2 linked regions of the Homo sapiens genome follow. The protein of the gene in region 1 interacts with the protein of each later gene in a pairwise test. Each region holds a gene or a part of one and is shown on either strand. Other genes may lie near its edges. The genes, in order: TSPAN33 and KCNK5.

Evidence for each region.
Region 2: the proteins of TSPAN33 (region 1) and KCNK5 interact in binary tests that used the Homo sapiens proteins (3 or more experiments, as listed by UniProt).

Annotation. Positions count from the first base shown.
Region 1 is NC_000007.14:129,145,218-129,155,785, forward strand, and holds part of TSPAN33 (tetraspanin-33), read left to right. Parts: intron 1-10,568. UniProt on the Homo sapiens protein: Part of TspanC8 subgroup, composed of 6 members that interact with the transmembrane metalloprotease ADAM10.
Region 2 is NC_000006.12:39,189,995-39,200,562, reverse strand, and holds part of KCNK5 (potassium channel subfamily K member 5), read left to right. Parts: intron 1-4,575; coding exon 4,576-4,687; intron 4,688-5,802; coding exon 5,803-5,969; intron 5,970-6,225; coding exon 6,226-6,394; intron 6,395-8,807; coding exon 8,808-9,673; 3' UTR 9,674-10,568. UniProt on the Homo sapiens protein: K(+) channel that conducts voltage-dependent outward rectifying currents upon membrane depolarization. Voltage sensing is coupled to K(+) electrochemical gradient in an 'ion flux gating' mode where outward but not inward ion flow opens the gate.

The sequences.
Region 1 (10,568 bases):
GGGAGGGACACCCCGGGGACGCCGCGTCTGCAGGGGGCGTTGTAGGGAGGAGGGTATGCCAGGGAATCAGTAAAGACTGATGGGTATTCTCGGGGCGTCGGAGGAGGGTCTGTGTTAGGCTAGAAATGTGGGTTTGAGGGAGCCTGTTGGCCCAAGGCGGACCCACTGACACATTCATGATGGGGGTCGGGGGTGGCGGCTGACTTTCAGGCCTGGGGGCCTGGAGGCCCGGCTGGCAAAGAAAGAAGAGGAAGGAAAAACCCAAACCTCTCTCTCCACCACCTCAGAGAGGATGGGTTACTGGCATCATCTCTTCCTTTTGCAGGCCTCATCTACCCCCACCTCCACCCCCCCAAAGTCTAGGAAGAATGGCCTCCAGGTGCAGATGTCTTTCCCATCCCAGCACTGCCCCAAACTTTGTCCCCTCCCTGCCACCCTTCTCAGGACCAGACTTCACCCCTGGAGCCTGGCAATCACCAGTGTCTTTAAACAGGACCCCGTGTTGGGCCGGAGGGCCAGGGGTCCTTTCAGAATCTTCTGCTTGGGGTGGAAAAAGTATTGGGCTGGGACTCCGGACACCTGGATTCCCATCCCACTCTGCCGTTCATTGTTGACTTGACCGACCTAAGCATGTATGTTCATGTCTGCAGGCCTTGACTCCCTCCCCCACAAATCCAACCCAGTGTGATCAGGGGTGGCAGAAAGACTGCTGAAGCTGAGAATTGAGCTGAACCAGATCATGCAATGCCAGCTCGACCCTGTTTCCTGGCTAGAGAGTCCTGGAGGTCCTGGGGTGTGAGAACATAGGGACATCCTTCCCCCATTCACCTCCTCTTCTGGCTCCTACCACACCAGAGCTGCTGCTTCTGGAGCCCACCATCCTTGCCCACTTCAGCTGGAGACCTAAAGTTCAGACTTGCAGGAGGGAAGAATTGAGTCTAAAATATGTTTCCTAGGGGAGGGAGCAGAACAGACATCTAAGCCATTTGCTGGAAAGGTTTCACAGGGCCCGTGGGGTGAGGTGCAGACACAAAGCCCATAAGTGCTGGCCTGTTGGGACAAATGAGAGAAATCCCATAGGGTGGTGATGACAGCGCACTCAGCCATCCTACTCCTGGGGAAAATGAAACTTGTGCTCCTATCAAATGCTCAGTTGTAAAACTGGAAAAAAATTTTAGAAGACATCTTGTCCAGCATCTGTGTTTATGTCTATAAAATGTAGAAAACTAAAGCACAGAGATGTTAAATGTTTTGTCCAAGGTCCAACAGCTGGTTAGCAGGCTTGGTCTGGTGACCTTTCTACTGAACCACAGTGCCGCTGGGGGAAGTCCTCAGCACAGATGGCTGCTGCTATAGCTGGGGTATGGGCAGTATTAGTAGTTAACCAGTCAACCCAAGTTCCCATAGTCTAGGTTCTGCTTCAGCTGGAGGTTAGGGAAAAACACAAGAAAATCCCTTACCACTCTACCAGTGCTGGGGGATGTACTAAGAGACTCCCCACTTAGGGGCAAGTATCAGTGAAGTCTCTGTGCTCACTGAGTGTGCCAGGCCAGTGACGTGACATCCTCGGAGCCAGCACTAGCATTTCAGGGACTTTAGGTCGTCACTCTGACTTCCTTTATCTGCCGAGACTGTCTCCCTTGGAGCCATTGGTACCTCACCCTTGTCTGTGCTCGCCAGTGACAACAGCTGGGTGCATCTGTTACACTTGTGTTCCTGGTCATTTTTTTTTTCTCGAGCTTCCCTACCCCCTACCTCCACCCTACCCCCCTTTTATCGGACAAACGACTTTGAGAGATCTCAGCCAGGAGAGAGTTTGGCTCCACAGACCCATTTACCTTGGTAAAAATGCTTCATTCAAGGTCAGAAGACGTGGGTGGCCAAGCTAGCACCACCCCAAATTAGAATAGAGCCCCTTCTTGGCCCTACAGTAGACTCATAAAAAATCAGAGGCTCTAGAAATAGCACACTGAAAGACAAGAGGCTCAGCATCTTTTTGGCACCAACTTACTGTGTGACCCTAAGCCAATGTATCTGTCTCTCTGACCTTAATCTTTCTCCTCTAAAGGAGAAACAATTTCTGCCTCAGTGAACTATTTAAGGATGAATGAATCATTTTGGGGACTGTTTTCTTTCTTCAAGACCTAGAGCTGGATCTAAGGATGAATCTCCCTGTGTCCTGATTGCCCTTCCTAGGGGACAGTACTTTTCAGGTGTTATTGAATGTCCCTTCTCCCCCAAACCCAGTGCTGCACAGGTATATTCATACAAGAGCAGCTGGAGAGAAAATGCTGCCTCCCCAGATCAGGGGGCCATCTTTCTTCCTAGCTCCTCTTCAGGGACTGGTTCCCATGCTTTCTTTTTTGTAGACTTCCACCATCCTAATCAAATTCTGCTCTTCTGCCCAGGAAGCACCTATGGATGAGATGATGGTCAGCCCACACCCTTTGCAGGCAGAGTGCATGCTCTGGCCGGCTTCTGGAGCTGCCGCATGGCAGTGGTTATTGTGTCTGTGCCTGGAACCCACTAGGAAGGTGTCCGGCATCCTCTGGGCTCTGAATAGTGGTGCTGGTGGTGATGGTGGCTACGTCTGCTGTTGCTCTAGAAGCCCTGACTCTTGGGGCATTTGGAGTCTGACTCAGAAAACTAATGAATTTTGGGGGACTGGGACCAGTTCCTACTGTTCATGTTTCAAATCTCACTTCCCCTTTGACCTGGGAGTTCTGATTTTCTTCCCAGAATCATGTTGCTGGGTTACTGACTGTGGGGATTCCATGGCCTGGAGTAGCTGCTCTAAGATCCTAGATGTTGCATTTAAATCAGTTAGGGTGGCTACAGAGCAGCTGCCTCTCCTCACCTCCCTCTGCAGGACAGCTCCGTGCAGATATTGGGGTGGTGCCTGCTTTCTCAGCTTGGCCATGTGTTGTCAGGAATATTCAGTGCCGCCCACCTCCTTCCTCGCTGGTCCTTTTCCCACTCAGGGCAGCAGTTGGCTGGCTTTTGAGTCAGGCAGAGCCCAGAAGCTCAGACCTCCAGCCCCTGTGTCTCAGCCCAGGCTTCCCTAGCAGCCATGCCTCAGGGCTCCCATGGCACCTTCTGTATTCTTCTATTGTCACATCCCTTACCTGTGCTGCAATTGTGTTTACTTCTCCGTCTCCCCCTCTAGACTTCGGGCTCTCGAGGGTGGGCACGGCCCTATTCACTTCTGGATCCCCAGTGCCCAGCTGTGTTTGGCATAAATTGGGTGCTTACTGAATGTTTATTGGATGGTGAGTGAGAGAGCAAACCCCACAGGGTAGAGGCTTGATGCCCATCCTCCCTTCCTCATGGACACTGGCCTGTCAAGATGCAGCTCAACCTGGGGTCCTTGAGCACTCTTGGTGATGAGGTACCCAACTGTGTTCTCCTCTGTGGTGGGTCTGGCGGCCTGGCAACCCTCCACTTAAGCCAGGTCAGAAACATGGCAGCCATCCCCTCCTCAGAGCCACACGTACTTACTGCCTACAGCATCTGGATTTTCTCACTTCCACTGCCACATATATGCACCCTTGTCCAGGTCTTCCCTAGGCTGAGCCAAGCCACCAGTGGGGCATCTTCTTCAAGAAATCCACTCTCCCATCCAGGACTACTGTATTGGAGTCCTTGGGCACTCAGAATCACCCAGGCCACTCTCAGCACCATTTCTTTTCGTCTGGCTCAAAAACCATGAGGAAGTAACCAGGCATCAAGCCAGGCAAAAACCTCTTCTAAGTGGCAGGGGCCCTTTCTGCCATCCAACCCCCTCATCCTATACTTCCAAATACACTAGGAGGCAGAGCCCACCACCTCCCTCCTCCACCCCCGCCGTCTTCCCCATAGACTTGGCTGGCTTCCATAACTGAAGACAGATGCTTTTTATAAAAACAACGAAAATTACAAAATATGGGAAATGAAGACAAGAACCATCTCCTTTGCTATGCAGGTCGCGTGCACACTTCTTAACTTCCCAGCAGCTTTGTTTGCCCTGTACCAAGTAGAAAACCATAAACGTCAAGCAGCCTTTAAAAAGGAAAAAAGAAGGCTGGGCGCGGTGGCTCATGCCTGTAATCCCAGCACTTTGGGAGGCCGGGGCAGGTGGATCACCTGAGGTAAGGAGTTCGAGATCAGCCTGGCCAACATGGTGAAACCCCATCTCTACTAAAAATGCAAAAATTAGCCAGGTGTGGTGGTGCACACCTGTATTCCCAGCTACTTCGGAGGCTGAGGCAGGAGAATCACCTGAACCTGGGAGGCAGAGATTGCAGTGAGCCGAGATTATTACATTCCACGCTGGGCAACAAAAGTGAAACTCCGTCTCAAAAAAAAAGAAAAAAGAAAACATAGAGTGCCTCTCAGATCTTTTTAGGAGGCTAGTGCTGGGCCAGTCCCTCCGGGGCTTTGAGTTTGAATGGTTATTTACTGCAAGCCCTTGCAGACCTCCCTTCCTCTTTCTTAACCTTGGAAGAACAAAGCCAGCCGTGGCCTGAGGAAGATGCCAAAGGCTTGGCCCCGGACATTGTTGAGGAAGGAGCCCTGTGGACTCCTCCACTCCAGGGGGACAGTGTCCCCCAATCCAGAGGGAGAGCGCTGACAGCCAGCCTCCCATGGACAGCCGCCACCTCAGACACCCATAACAGCAGCGCCATGGAGAGCACAGAAAGACCAGTATGTGAAGGTCACGGGCAGGGAGAGAGGTGGCCCTACTCCGGGGCCACAGGCTGAAAGCTCTTTGGCTTCATCCAGATATAAGGGTAGGGAGGACTGAGAAACCAGAGGTGGAGACCACTGCCTTGCCCACTTCCCTCTGGGCAGGGACAGGGTTTTGATTGCCACACAGGGAACCACTTTACCCTCAGCTGTCTCCACCATCACCTTCAAAACAGGAGGGAAAGAGATTCTAAGGAGGGGGTGCGGGCCCTGAGACAGTGGGGCTCCACTGCTTCTTGCAGCCTGGACTTTGGACTATGGAAGACAGACAAGGCTAGGGCTTTCCCTGGAGGCTACGCCTGCTGGTGGCCCCACTGTGGCAACGCCATGCCTTCCCTTTTCAGAGTGCTGTTCCAGAGACTTCCCTCTGAGCCACCTCCTGGGCCCTGCTGGCACCCTGTCCCCGCCGCCAGCTGCAATCTTCCTTCCCCTGCCTGAAAACCAGCCCATTTGGAGATTATCAGCTGCTCCCCCAAGGGAACCACAAGCAGCTGCTTCCCATCTCCCATGATGGCTGATGTGAATAGGCAAAATCCTGGGGGTACTGGGAGGCAGAGATAGGAAGGCAGCCAAGTGGCCAAGCTCATAAGGCTTTGGGGACATCCAGACCTAGGTTCCATTCCCACTTCAGCCGCTCACTAGCCATGTGAACTGAGGAAAGTTGCTGGAATTCTCTGAACATCAGCTCTATAAAATGGAGATCCTAATGCCCTCTTGGGTTTGTGGTCAGAATTAAATGAGACAGTGTTTAGCCCAGCGCCTGGTCCTTAGCACTCAACAAAAAGTACTGCCACTGCTGTCCCTGTAAATGCTCCTAGAGGTCACCTGCTGGGGGTGGGCGTGGAGAGTGAGGCTGAGCGCTCCTCCAGGGAGGAGGAAAGAGAGTGGCAAGCAGACAGGGACTGGCTAGGGAAGGGCCAGCCTTTGCTCAACCCTCTTTGCTCACATTCTCACCATAACAAAGGAAAACCAAAAACAAAGGAAGAAAATCAAAGAGAAAAGAAAAAAAGCTAAGCAGGAGACAATCATTATTGGTAGCTTTATATTTTTTAGTTTATGGAGATACTTCCTATATATCCCATGAACAGAGCTCCACTGTTGTCTCCTGGGCTTCCCTAGCTCTGCTTCTCAAGGCTTGTCACACCACCTTGGCCTTTTAAAACTTTTATTTACGTATTTATTTGTTTATTTGTTTGTTTGTTTAGACATGGTGTTGCTCTTTGACCCAGGCTGGAGTGCAGTGATGGGATCACAGCTCACTGCAGCCTCGACTGCTTGGGTTCAAGCAATCGTCCCACCCCACCCTGCTGAGTAGCTTGGACTACAGGCATGCATCACCATGCCCAGCTAATTTTTTTTTAGAGACTGGACTTACTGTGTTGCCCAGACTGGTCTTCAAATCCTGGCCTCAAATGATCTTCCTCACTTTGGCCTCCCAAAGTAGTGGGATTACAGGCATGAGCCACCATGCCTGGCCCTACCTTGATCTTAAATGCAATCCAGTAGAGATGGACTCTGGGAGCTAATTTGCCTGTAATTATTGGCATTTGGGCATAAGAGCCAGGAGAACAACCTTTGTTTAGGACCTCAAGTTGAGGCCCTGCAACCTTTCCTCTCCTATTACTGATGGCCCTGAAGTACTGTCTTGTGGGCTAGAATAAGGGTTTCTCCTTTTAAACATCAAATCATGACTATTTTTTCCCAATTTGCAAGAAAAAAAGTCAAGATAAGAAAATTTTCTTCATTTTCTCCTTTCTCCCATGAACATTAGTACCTGCAACTGCTTATCTGCCTGCAAGTGCTAACAAAAGGCAAGCAGAAGAGGACAAGTAGCAACTATTATGGAAAACTAGGAAACAATTTATTTAGAGTATGCCTGCGTTGTTTTATGAAACGCAGAGACATACACCTAGCAGCCACATCTCTTAGTAAAATTGTTCCTTAGTTCTGTAGTAGAAATTAATATGTTTGCCTCCTCACATGATACACTGAGATGGACACAGCAGTATCTGTGTAATATTCCTGTCAAATATGTGTAATCTGAATCTGTGAGGAAACAAACAAATAAATCCAAATCGAGGGACATTCTGCAAAACAATTGGCCGGAACATGAAAAATGTCAGTGTCCAAAAAAATGTCAGAACAAGTGTTGGGAAGGATGTGAAGACACTGGAACCCTCACACTTGGCTAGTGGGGAAGTAAAAAGGCACAGCCGCTGTGGAAAACAGTTTGGCAGCTCCTTAAAGAATTAAACATAGAATTACCATATGATTCAGCAATTCCTAGGTATAGAGAACATTGAAAACAGGTATTCAAACAAGACCTTTTACATGAATGTTCATAGCAATACTATCCACAGCAGCCAAAAGGTGGGAGCAACACAAATGTCTACCAATGGAGGCATGGAGAAACAATTGTGTTACAGTCACACAACCAAGTATTATTCAGCGATAAAAGGAAATGAAGTTGGCAGGGCACGGTGGCTCATGCCTGTAATCTTTTGGAGGCTGAGGCGGGCAGATCACTTGAGGTCAGGAGTTCGAGACCAGCCCAGCCAACATAGGGAAATCCCGCCTCTACTAAAACTACAAAAATTAGCTTGTTGTGGTGGCATGCACCTGTAATCCCAGCTACTCAGGAGGCTGAGGCACAAGAATCGCTTGAACCTGAGAGGCAGAAGTTGCAGTGAGCTGAGATTGCACCACTACACTCCAGCCTGGGTGACAGAGTGAGACTCCATCTCAAAAAACAAACAAACAAACAAACAAACAGGAAATGAAGTTGTAACACATGCTACAACACAGATGAATCTTGAAAACATTCTGCTAAGTGAACCGAACGCGGGTGGCTCACACCTGTAATCCTAGCACTTGGGGAGGCCAAGGCAGGAGGATCACCTGAGGTTGGGAGTTCGAGACCACCATGACCAACATGGAGAAACCCCATCTCTACTAAAAATACAAAATTAGCCAGGTTTGGTGGCACATACCTGTAACCCCAGCTACTCGGGAGGCTAAGGGAGGAGAATGGCTTGAACCCGGGAGGTGGAGGTTGCAGTGAGCCGGAGATTGCGCCACTGCACTCCAGCCTGGGCAACAAGAGTGAAACTCCGTCTCAAAAAAAAAAAAAAAAAAAAAAAGAAAAAGAAAAAGAAAACATTCTGCTAAGTGAAAGAAGCCGGACACAGAGGGTCACCTAGTATGTAATTCCAATGACAGGAAATGTCCAGAATAGGCAAATCCATAGAGACTGAAAGCAGATTTGTGGTTACCAGGGGCTGGGGGCGGAGGACAGGGTGATGGGAATGGGGAGTGATGGTTTAATGGGTACAGGGTTTCTATTTGGGGTGATGATAAAGCACTGCACCCTGATGGTGGTGATGGTTGCACAGCCATGTGAATGTACTAAAGGCCACTGAACTGTTTACTTTAAAATGTCTAAAATGGTACATTTTGTGTCACATGTATTTTACCATAAATTTTAAAGTCAGTGTCTTAAAGACCAAAAACAAAGGAAGAAAATTAAAGAGAAAAGAATTAAAGCCAAGAGACTGTTCCAGGCTGAAGGAGAGTTAATCTCTAAATGCATGATCCTTGATTGGATCCTGGATAAGAAACAAAAAAAAGGTTACAAAGGACATTTTGGGGATAATTGGGGAAAGTTACATATGGACTGTAAATTAGGTCACAGTAATAGTGTATTAAAGTTTAAAAAAGATCAGTTGCAGTGGCTCATGTCTGGAATCCCAGCACTTTCAGAGGCCATGGCGGGTGGATCACTTGAACCCAGGAGTTCAAGACCAGCCTGGGCAATATGGTGAAACCCTGTCTCTACAAAAAAATTTAAAAATTAGCCCAGTTGGTGGCATGTGTCTGTAGTCCCAGCTACTCAGGAGGCTGAGGCAGGAGGATTGCTTGAGCCCAGGAGGTCAAGGCTATAGTGAGCCCTTGATTGTGCCACTGTACTCCATCCTGGGTGACAAAGCAAGACACTGCCTCAAAGAAAAAAAAAGAAGAAGAATATGACAAAATCTATAATGTACACCAACAGAGCACTGTGACTTCCCAGTGCTCTGTCACTTGAACAATTTTAAGATCCACTATCTTAGCCAAGCATGGTGGCTCATGCCTGTAATCCCAGCACTTTGGGAGACCAATGAGGTAGGATCACCATATGCCAGGAGTTTAAGACCAGCCTGGGCAACCTAGCAAGATCACATCTATACCAAAAATTTAAAAATCAGGTGAGTGTCATGGCATGTGCCTGTACTCAGGAGGCTGAGGCAGGAGAATCTCTTGAGCCCAAGAGGTTGAGGCTGCAATGAGCTATGATTGTACCACTGCCCTCCAGCCTGGGCAACACAAGAGTGAGACCTTGTCTGTTGGTGGGGGGAAGAAAAAAAGATCCACTGCCTTAAGTTTTGGTGTGATTGATGGGAAATCACCCAGATTACAGTTTGTAAAACTGTATGCAAGTGAACCCTAGTTTATGAAAATCTGATGTTAAAAAATGTATAGGCCAGGTGTGATGGCTCACGCCTGTAATCCCAGCACTTTGGGAGGCTGAGACGGGTGAATCACCTGAGGTCAGGAGTTTGAAACCAGCCTGGCCAACATGATGAAACCCTGTCTCTACTAAAAATACAAAATTAGCCGGGTGTGGTGGCTCATGCCTGTAATCCCAGCTACTTGGGAGGCTGAGGCAGGAGAATCGCTTGAACCTGGAAGGTGGAGGTTGCAGTAAGCCGAGATCGCGCCATTGCACTGCAGCCTGGGCAACAAGAGCGAAACTCTGTCTCAAAAAATAAAATAAAAAGTATAAACTAACAAATTGGGGTGGGAGGAGGTAATAGACTATTTTTCAAGAACAATTTTACAGAAAAATTGAGAAGATAGTACAGAGATGGACGTTTCTCAAAAAACAAAAAATAGAACTACTAGACAATCCAGCAATCCCACTACTGAGTGTTTATCCAAAGAAAAAGAAATGAATATATTGAAGAGACATCTGCACTCCCATGTTACTGCAGCACTATTCACAATAGCCAAGAAATGGAATAACCTTAAGTGTCCATCTACAAATGAATGGATACAGAAAATATGGTTCATATACATAATGGGATATTATTCAGCCATAAAAAAGCATGAAATCCTGTCATTCGTGACATAGACAGAATTGGAGGTCATTATGTTAAGTGAATAAGCTGAGCACAGAAAGACAAATATTGCATGTTCTCACTCATATTTGAGGGCTAAAAAAGTGAAACTCATAGAGGTAGAGAATAGAATGAGTTACCAGAGGCTGGGATCCAGGGGCAGGAGGATGAAAAGAGGCTGGTTCATAGGTACAAACATATGGTCACATAGAAGGAATAAGTTCTAGTGTTCAACAGCACAGTAGGGTGACTATAGTTAACAACAATATATTGTATTTTTCAAAATAAATTTAAAAGGCTTCTAACACAAATGATAAATGTTCAAGGTGGTGGATGTTCTAAATACCCTGATTTGATCATTAAACATTGTACACATGTATCAAAATATCATATGTATCCCATAAATACATACAATTTACATATATCAATTAAAAACATTTTAAGATAGTATTGAGAGTTCCTATATACCCCATACTCTGTTTTCCCTGTTATTAACACATTAGTATGATACATTTGTTGTAATTAATAGTATTATCATTATGGTCTACACTTTATTGGTTTTTTTTTTCATTTTTATTTAATATCCTTCTGTTCCAGAATCCTATTCAAGATACTACATTACTTTTTTCTTTCTTTTTTTTGAGACAGGGTCTTGCTGTGTCACCCAGGCTGGAGTGCAGTGGCACA
Region 2 (10,568 bases), on another chromosome or scaffold:
TAGGACCCAGATGGGCCTGGGTTCTAGTCTTGGCTTCACTGTTTTTAGCACTTTCTTAACCTCTGTAAGCCTCAAATCCTCAGTTGCAAAATGGAAAAAAATTATAGTATCTTCCCAGCAAGAATCTGTCCTCTCTAAATGAGCTAAAGGCACATAAAATGCTTTACCCAACTCTTGGCACATAGGAAGCCCTCCGTAAATCACAGCTGCTTTATGGTGACGGTGATGGAGACAGGGAACTCTACTCCGTTCCCAAACAAGAGCTGGGCCTGAGCTTTGTGCAGGCTCCCCTTTTCCCATTACTCTCCAGGCTTGTATGGAAAATGAAAATATTGTCTCGTGTGAATTTGGGAGCCAAGTTAAAGAATCCAGCCAGTGAACAGGGGCCGCCTCCTCCCGCGAAAGCTGTTTCCCTAACCCCGAGGACGGGACGCCTTGTCTGACAGGGTGTTTACCTGGCTCTCCCATGTCCCTTCCCCTAACCCAGTGATGGCCTTAGTCCTGGGTCAGCTTTTCTGTTCTGGGAGACCAATTAAAGCCCCCTCCTCTTCCTGCATAATCCCAGCCATGATCAGTGAGGTATCCACAGATACACACAGTGGGAATAGGGAGCTAGCACCCCAAATTCACATCCAGACCTCAGCTCCCTGAGCCTGGCTTTCCTCCTCTGCCAAGTGATGCCTGGCAGAATGACAGGAAGAGCCAGTTAGGTAACGTGTGTAAAAGCCCCGGCGAGGGGTGTCTGACATACAGCAGCACTAGCACAGCTTCTCTCCACCAGCACTTGGGTGGAGCTGAGCTGATTCCCAGGCCAGCTGCTTGGGAACCACAGCAGAGGAGGCAACCGCAAGGGGCAGTGGGGCAGCCCAGGGGCAGGCAGACCCAGGCAGATGGAGGCAGGGAGGCTTGAACTTGCAGACTTGAAACCAGACAGTCTACAACCTAGCCCAGTTCTGCCAGGTAACCAACCTCTCTCCGCCCAGTGGGTGTAATTGCCACCACTGGGTCTTTGCAAGGAATGAGTAGTGCTTGCAGCCCCGGGGAGTTAGGGGCTCTCTCCAGTGCCTCCTTTGCCCGCCCCTTGTTGGGCAACCACAGAGGGATACTAGAAGTCATGGGGAAAGCACATAATGCTGTGGCTGCCTGATAAGCCAGGGCCTGAGGCTGCCAGCTGGTCCCCAAAGGGCACACCATCAGTGGGGTGAAGGGTAGAAAGCCCAGCTCTTCCACCTCTCCCCACTCCCAAACTTAATGCCTTCTTCAGTTACCCTGTTTTGCCAGTTCTTTTGTTTGATGTCTCCTTAGCACTTACTAAATGATTCCCAAATCACAGGTTACCTTTGGCACTAGCATTTCCCAGGGGGAGCATTTTTGGCCTTGTGGGTGTGGTTGTCCTGTGAATTGCAGGGCATTTAGCATCTCTAGCCCCTTGCCTTCTCAATGCCAGAGCATCTCCCATCACCCATTAGAATAAACATAAGAGGAGGGCAGGGATTCCGTCCGTTCACTGCAGTATACTCACTGCCTAGAACAGTGCCTGGTACATGCAACATTCCTCCTTAGAAAGCATTTCCAGACACTTCCAAAAGGCACTACCACCCCAGTGGAGAACCCCTGTTCCAGACATACCTTCCACAACACCCTTGATGGATGCTGGCTACCCTGGTCTAAATACTTTGCATTATCAGAAATTGATTACTACAAGGAGTAGCCCTTTGTAGACTCATTATCCAAAACAGCCACCCCATCTCCCCCTTGGACTTTGGCCTGTTGGTTAGCATATCATGTGAAGTCTGACACCCAGAATGAAACAAGGTGCCCCATATATGGCCTGACCCTGCAAGCAACAGTGGGCTTGTTACCTCCCAGCCCTGGATAGACCTGGAGTTGACATAGCCTGAGATTGCATTTACTTTTCTTGTGACAGCAGGACAGTAGGATTACTGTTTGTTGATCCATGGTCAGCTAATATCCAGGGACTTTTCCCTTCAATCCTCTACCAGTCTTTTCCAATCCAAAGTATAAGACTTAAACATTTAAGTGGATACTTGTATGTTGTTGATTTTGGCCCCTATATCCAGCCAGATGATTTTGAATCTTGATACTGCCATTGCTATGTGTTAGCTATCTTCCCATCCCATCCTTATCCCCAATTTTGCATCCACTGCACATTGGATTAGTAAACCATCTCTGTCCTCACTGTGCTGTGGTTTAAAATATTGAAGAAAACCAGGCCTTAAGCATGATGGTGGAGACTCAGTCTGGGTTGATAATGATCAATACCTCCTAGGGTTGTTTGTCTGCCTTTGAATGGACCCAATTAATCCTGGCTCCACTGACATTTCTGTGTCTTGTCCACATGAATTTCTTTAATCCCATCTGTTAGCTGCCTTGCTGATATCTAGATGGATTACATTCCACAGAACTTCAAGGCTTTGCAACCCTTTGAAAAGGAGATGCACTTAGCTGAGCATGACTTGTTCTGGGTGAATCTGTGCTAGTTTCTAGTGCCCACTACTTCCTCTTCTGCATGTTCCAAACATTCTCCTCTCCCCATTTTGAAGTTTGCAAGAGTTCAGGTTTGTTTTCTGAATTTCTAGAATCCACTCTTTTCCTTTTTGTGAAAAATGGGAACAGCTTGTCTTCTGACATCTTTCCTGTTCCCCATGATTCCATGGGGATGACCAGAGGTGGTGCTGCAGCCTCACCTGTGATCAGTGATTCAATTATCATTTCAAGATGTTCTTGTATGTTCTTATATACTCTTTTCTTGTAGGCCGGTCCCATTCAAGATCGATATCTGAGGTAGCAAAGGTAGATGCCAAAGGAGAGCTGGGTGGTTCCGCTTTCTCTGCCATCTGTTTAACATTAACGTGGCCCTGGTACTTCCTCATTCTCTTGCTCCAAACAGATTTGATGTTTTCAGAAACCCATTGGATGGTCCTTAGTATTTGTTTTAGCTCTCCTGTTGGCCTGTTAGTATCTAAATGTCCTTTAGCCATTTCACATTGAAATGGTCTGGCCAGCTAGACAGAGAGCTCTCTGAGGGCAGGGGCTGCCTTGGCCAGAGTTTGATGCGATGGTCCCCACTTTCCACTTTGATGCTGCACAGCCTTCGTAGCCTCGGAGATGCTGTGAAATGCCGGAGGAGGCAGCGCAGTGAGCTGTGTGGTTTGATGGTCTGACAGACAAGCGTGCCATCATGGAAAATTCTTTGCAGAGTGTGCAGATCCATTTACGCAGGCCGGCTGCTGCTTCTGCAAATTACACTTTCCTTCAGAACAACCCACCCATGCCCTTTTTTTCCCACCAAACCTCAGTCATGCTCTGGGTAGGTTAGAAACAAGGTTTTTTTTGTCTCCCTCTGTTTCCATCCCTCACTCTTCTGTCTCTTCTCTCTCAGTCCTTGTCTTGGTTTTTATAGGCAATTTGGCTGAATGCCTAGCTTCTGGTCTGGATGGCCTACCCATCTGCAGGCGCTCCTTGGGGACAGGACTTGAGCCCCAGATTTAGAGTCCCTTCTTATGTGACTTCTGGGGTCCAGGCCCTGCCAGCTGATAAAGCCCCACAGATAGGTTGGAGCCAGTGGTGATAGCAGAATTGGGGCCTAGTCAGATGGAAACAGGTTTGCAGCTGTCAGTATTGTAGGAGTAGATAAGTTCCCCACACCTCTGCCCCACCGCTCCTCGCACTCTCCAGGGGGACATCCCATCCCCAGGTGGCCTCTCACCTGCTATCCACAGTTACTGGAAGCTCTTTGGGGATTGATAGCACAGTTATGAGTCACCCTGAAATGTACTCACCCTCTGATCTGTCCCTTCCCAGACAGCTGCTCAGCCCAGGGCAGAGAGAGAAAGGGCTACAGGGAAGGGAGGGAAGTGAGATCCCACAGGGGAGAGGGTACATTAGAGTCCTAGGCTGGGGGAAAGGAGGACCTGCTGATTTGCATGCCCTCCGAGGACAAGTCAACAGGGCACTGAGCTGACCTGAGCAGGTATCCTACAGTAGGCTGAAGGGTATATGGGGGGCCCCTCCCCAGCCAACCCTGAACAAGGACCTGGTCTCTGCAGGTAGAACACCCTCCATGGAGGGCTGGGTGAGGCACAGGGGACCTCCTTGTGTGTGTCTGCCTCACATGTGCTTTTTTTGAGAGGCAGAATTAATCTAGTGCAGTGGTTCTCAAAGTGTGGTCCCTGTCCACAGCATCACCTGGGAACATGTTTAGAAATGTTCCTTCTAGACCTCCTAAATCAGAAACTCGGAGTAGTAGGGGCCAGCAGTCTGTTGAACAAGATTTCCAGGTGATCCTGGTGCATGCTAGTAAGTTGGAGAAGCATTGACTCAGTGAAAGAATGAACTTTGGAGCCAGATTGCCTGGGTTCATATCTTTACCTTGGGTAAATCAGGTAACCTCTCTGATCCTCTATACAATGTTTCATCTGTAACATGGAGACACTGCCACCTTCTTCTTGTGATGACTAAATGAAAATGCTTACAAGGAGTTTAGTGCAGTTCTGTCAATCAGCATCTGTTAAGTGTGGCCTCAGCTCTGACCTTTACTGTTTCTCATTTTAGGTGGTATCTGATGCTGCAGGACAGGGTGTGGCCATCACAGGGAACCAGACCTTCAACAACTGGAACTGGCCCAATGCAATGATTTTTGCAGCGACCGTCATTACCACCATTGGTAAGTCTTCTGGGACCTGTAGGACACCCACATCCATGCCCTAGCTCCTCAGAACCTTTCTAGAAACCCAGCTCTGGTCACTCAGCCCTGTTGGGGGTACAATCAGATCAGTTGCAGGCTATTCTTTTGATACTTTCTTAGGGATTTGTTAAGTCCTTGGTAGCTGATCATGCCTGGGAAGGTTTCCTTGAGTCTTGACCTGGGCTCTTTGAGCAGAAACAATGACACAGCCTCATGGCCAGAGCCATGCAAGAGATTAACCAGACTGCTCATTGCAGAAACCCAGATCATGACTACTTACCAAGCTGGGTGTCTGTTTCAGTTCTCAGGCTGCATAGCCAACCAGTCCAGAAGTTTGGCTCAGAACGCAGCTTCTTCTCTTTCACCATTCTGTCAGCTTGACTGGGCTCAGCTGGCTGGTTCTTGCTTGGGCTCCCAATGCAGTGGCAGTCGAACAATGGCTGGGCTGGAGTCTTCTGAAAGCCAAACTCATCTGATGGCCCAGATGGCTCCTCCCATCACAGATTTGACAGTTGATGCTGGCTGTTGGCTGGGAGCTCAGCTGGGGATGAAAACACAAGGCCTCCGCATGTGTTTGGGAACCAAGGCGAAAAGCAGCAGGCTTCTTAGACCTCACCTGTCCAGCGTCTCTTCCGCTGCCTAGACTGCTTCTGTTGTCAAGCCACTAAAGCCCAGATTCCAAGGGAAGAGGATTAGATGACACCTTGATGTGAGCAGTTGCATAAGAAGGGAGGGAATGGAGGATGGCTATCTTTGGAGACCATCTACCACAGTGCTTCTGGGGAATCTACACAGAGAGCATGTCTTATAACTTGCACAGTGGTACCATATAGACTAGTGGAAGACCTGTTGACCAGGCTTAGTCCCTGCCTTCAGGGAGCTCCTTGTATGATGGAGGAGATACAGCTCATGTCATCATAATTGCTTTATCAATGATCATGATCAGAGTATGATCAAGGGAAATATCATTACTTAAGTACTGACAATAGATCAATATCAATTTATCTTAGAGAACGGGCTGTGTGTGTGTTGGAAGCAAGGCCCACTGGTTTGACCACCCCTCCTGTTCTTGGCCTCACTCTCTCCTTCCTCAGGATATGGCAATGTGGCTCCCAAGACCCCCGCCGGTCGCCTCTTCTGTGTTTTCTATGGTCTCTTCGGGGTGCCGCTCTGCCTGACGTGGATCAGTGCCCTGGGCAAGTTCTTCGGGGGACGTGCCAAGAGACTAGGGCAGTTCCTTACCAAGAGAGGTGTGAGTCTGGTATGTCCCCTACCCTGGGTGTTGGGCAGAGATGGGGGAACCATGACAGGTGAGGGGAGGACAGGAGGCCTCTAGGAATTGGACCAAGGGTGTAAGGACAGATGGCAAGAGGATAGTTTCAGAGCTCCTTGCCCTCCCGGGTCAGGCTGGGTACCCAGCTAGCTTCTCCTCTAGCTGCCTCCCTGGCCCTCTGGGTGCCTTTGCTGGGTTTCCAAGTCTCCACTATTCTCTGACTTGGCCTCCTGCTCCCCATCAGCGGAAGGCGCAGATCACGTGCACAGTCATCTTCATCGTGTGGGGCGTCCTAGTCCACCTGGTGATCCCACCCTTCGTATTCATGGTGACTGAGGGGTGGAACTACATCGAGGGCCTCTACTACTCCTTCATCACCATCTCCACCATCGGCTTCGGTGACTTTGTGGCCGGTGAGTCCCTGCCTCTGCCTCCCACCTCTTTTTCTGCTTCTTTGGTTTCAGTGCAACAGACCTATGTTGGGGGTGCCCTAGGTAGGGTTCCATGTTCTGGGCACTTCTCTTACCCAGTGGGATTCTCAACCCACTCTGCCATTTGCAAGAGGAAACTAAGACCCAGAGTAATGACAAAAAACTCTTTTCTCTCTGGTTCCCTTTCTCAGACATGGCCTTTTTCCTCCTCCTTTCCTCTCTGCTCAGTCTCTGATCTCCTCTCCCTCAGTTCTCCCATGACTCCTGAGCTTGGCTTCATGGGGGACTTGCAAGTAGGGCCTTCTGCCTGCACGGTTGGTACCTGCTACCCAGGGAGCCCCTGAGCCCACCAGCACCCACTCCACGCCCTCAGCAGCCTTTCATCTTTCACAAGAGTGGAGGGAGGTGTCCTGAAGGCATGGCTCAGAGGCCTGGGGCTTTGTTCCTGCTGTAGCAGCTTAAAGACAAGGGAGGCCTTCTCCCCAGCTGCCCTGCCCCCAGCCCTGACACTCCCTCCTACTCCTCCCCTGCTTAATCCAGGGAAGTGATGAGGTTCTTTGGCCCCTTTGTCTGAAGGCCTGTTACCAGCTGGCCCCAGCCACACATGTACTTGTGTTTGTGGCCTGCACAGCATCTTGGTTCTTAATCTTCTTGACACCCTGTTTGACCCTGTTGACCCACCACCCCAGTGACCTCAACTTCTGCTCCAGAGGCCTCTGTTCTGTACCCCCTCCCTTTTGCCCAGAGGGCAGTGGGAGGCCACTAGCCTTGTGCTTGATGTATGTGGCATCTGGGAGCAGTTGGCTGAGTTGGGGGAGGAACAGGAAAGAGAGGCACAAACACTCCCCTGACCCTGCCAAGTCCGGGCCTGCTGTCCTGGGCAGTACATGTGGACAAGGCACAACCCTGCCATTGTCCAGCCCTTGAGGCCCAGAGCAGGCTAAGGAGGTGCCTCTGGTATTAGGGAAATACAGATGTACACTTAGCCATACTTTCTCAGCACCAGCAAGACACCAAACCCTGCCTCAGCTTTCTCTTCTGTAAAATTAGTAAAAATAATAATTACTATTCATGAGTGTTAAGGGTAGGGCCTGGCTATATCAGTGTGTGCCCTCATTACTGTCATCATGAAACTCTGCTTGTGATTGAGAGCCTTGAGCAGGATTAACAGGACCACTCAGGGCACCTGCTATCTGAGCCCGGTCGTGGGAGGAGAACTGACCGGGCTACAGCACCTGGAGGAACCTCTAGTCTGATGAGAGAGGTAGCCCCCTTCCTCCAGGTCCCTTCTGTAAGTTGCTCTTGTATCTAGTCGAGGGGGCAAATGGAATACAGGTCAACATGCCTGTACATGTAGTCGTCAACGACATTTCAAATAATCCTGGAGTGTAGGGGGAACCTTCAGAGCTGTAGGGGGTAAGCCAAGAAGGCTCCCTGCAGCAGGAGGGGGATGTGGAGCAGACAGAGCCCTCCTCCAGGTCAAGGGAGAGCTGATCTGAGGAAGTCAGGGAGGCAGACCAGACCTTCAATGAAAATAAAAATGGTTCAGCGTTTCTTGCCACGGTGGGTGCTTCCTGGGTCATCTCAACCTAACCACCAGCCTTGTTTGTAATCCACCAGTGTGAGTCTAGCCCCAGCTTGGAGGGTGCTGGGGGCTCCCTTGTGTAATATCCATCCATTCCGTTTTTAAGTGAACTGTATCATATACGCAGAACAGCTGGGGATGGTAGAAGAATTAACAGAAAGGCAAATACTCATGAACTGTTTCTTGACCTGTGTGTCGGTTACATTGCCAGTCCCCCAAAGCCCCTTTAGCTTCCTTCAAAGAGTCACTGTCTTGACTTTTTTTTTTTTTTTTTTTTTTTTTGAGACGGAGTCTCTGTCTGCTGCCCAGGCTAGAGTGGCAGTGGTGTGATCTTGGCTCACTGCAACCTCTGCCTCCCGGGTTCAAGCAGTTCTCCTGCTTCAGCCTCCTGAGTAGCTGGCCCGCCACCATACCTGGCTAATTTTTGTATTGTTAGTGGAGCTGGGGTTTTACCATGTTGGTCAGACTGGTTTCGAACTCCTGACCTCAAGTGATCCACCTGCCTTGACCTCCCAAAGTGCTGGGATTGCAGACGTGAGCCACCATGCCTGGCCTGTCTTGACGTTTCTAGTTGAGGAAACCGAGACTCAGAGACAGGCTGGAGACTGGGATGGGGTCATGAATGATGGCAGGCCCAAGCCCTTGAGGAAGATGGGATAGTCCAGGGTCTAGAACAGGCCCCTTTCTATCCCACTGCACCCCCGTCCTGTGCTCTGGCCTGACCCCTGCTCAGATCACACAGCATTGGCCATTGCACATTTCCCGGGCCCTGCTAACTCTTCCTGACCTCTGGACTGCCTGTCCGCTCAGGTGTGAACCCCAGCGCCAACTACCACGCCCTGTACCGCTACTTCGTGGAGCTCTGGATCTACTTGGGGCTGGCCTGGCTGTCCCTTTTTGTCAACTGGAAGGTGAGCATGTTTGTGGAAGTCCACAAAGCCATTAAGAAGCGGCGGCGGCGACGGAAGGAGTCCTTTGAGAGCTCCCCACACTCCCGGAAGGCCCTGCAGGTGAAGGGGAGCACAGCCTCCAAGGACGTCAACATCTTCAGCTTTCTTTCCAAGAAGGAAGAGACCTACAACGACCTCATCAAGCAGATCGGGAAGAAGGCCATGAAGACAAGCGGGGGTGGGGAGACGGGCCCGGGCCCAGGGCTGGGGCCTCAAGGCGGTGGGCTCCCAGCACTGCCCCCTTCCCTGGTGCCCCTGGTAGTCTACTCCAAGAACCGGGTGCCCACCTTGGAAGAGGTGTCACAGACACTGAGGAGCAAAGGCCACGTATCAAGGTCCCCAGATGAGGAGGCTGTGGCACGGGCCCCTGAAGACAGCTCCCCTGCCCCCGAGGTGTTCATGAACCAGCTGGACCGCATCAGCGAGGAATGCGAGCCATGGGACGCCCAGGACTACCACCCACTCATCTTCCAGGACGCCAGCATCACCTTCGTGAACACGGAGGCTGGCCTCTCAGACGAGGAGACCTCCAAGTCCTCGCTAGAGGACAACTTGGCAGGGGAGGAGAGCCCCCAGCAGGGGGCTGAAGCCAAGGCGCCCCTGAACATGGGCGAGTTCCCCTCCTCCTCCGAGTCCACCTTCACCAGCACTGAGTCTGAGCTCTCTGTGCCTTACGAACAGCTGATGAATGAGTACAACAAGGCTAACAGCCCCAAGGGCACATGAGGCAGGGCCGGCTCCCCACCCCACCTTTGATGGCCTCTTCCCCCCTCACCCTAGGGTGTCCCGAGATGACCGGGACGCCTGGCCCCTGGTGGGGGGGCAGCCTCGGAACTGGGAGTGGGGGGCCAGGGGCCTTCCTAACCTTCCATCATCCTCAGCTAGATGTATGCCCGGGACAGGGCCTCTGTTCTCCAGCTGAACCATACCCTGGCTGTGGGGGCATCTGTCCTGAGCTTGGCTGGTGTATCTCACAATGCAAAGACATGCTGGCTGGCGGGACAGGTGGGCAGGACTGACCCTGAGGAGGCCTTGCCTGCAGGGTCTTTGTCTCACCATTTGGTGGAGTATCACACGGTTCTCTGAGGTCTGGGGCCTCAGCTGTTTAAGTTTACCGGTATTACTGAGCTCGGCATTTGGAGAGGGAGCTCTGAAGTGTCTGGGGAGGTACCGCTGTGCGTGGGGTCAGGTGTTTCCGTACCACAGCAGGAGCAGGGCCCGCCCGCATCCCAGCTGTGGGCCTGCCGGTCAGGTCGGGCACCTACTACAAACCGTAGTGGGGTGGAGGCTGCTGGAGGTGGGAGTGAGGAGATGAGGGCAGGGTCTCAAACAGTCCTGACTCACAGGGCCTGGAAACAAGTCCTATGTGGGCCTGGGGCCTGGGGTCCTCATCCTCCTTGTTGGTCTACTCAGGCCCAGCCCAGAGCTGTGTTCCCTGTCTCAGGTCAAGCAGTGGCAGACGCAAGGCTTTCTGTGGGCCCCCAAGTGGTAGGAGGGAGAGTAGCAGAGCATGGGTTACTGGAAGCCGGGACTGCTAGGGCTGGTGGCCAGGGAGCTGCAAGAGTGAGGCTCAGCTCTGGCTGGTTCTGCCCTTACCCCTCCTGCCCGCCTGAGAACTGCA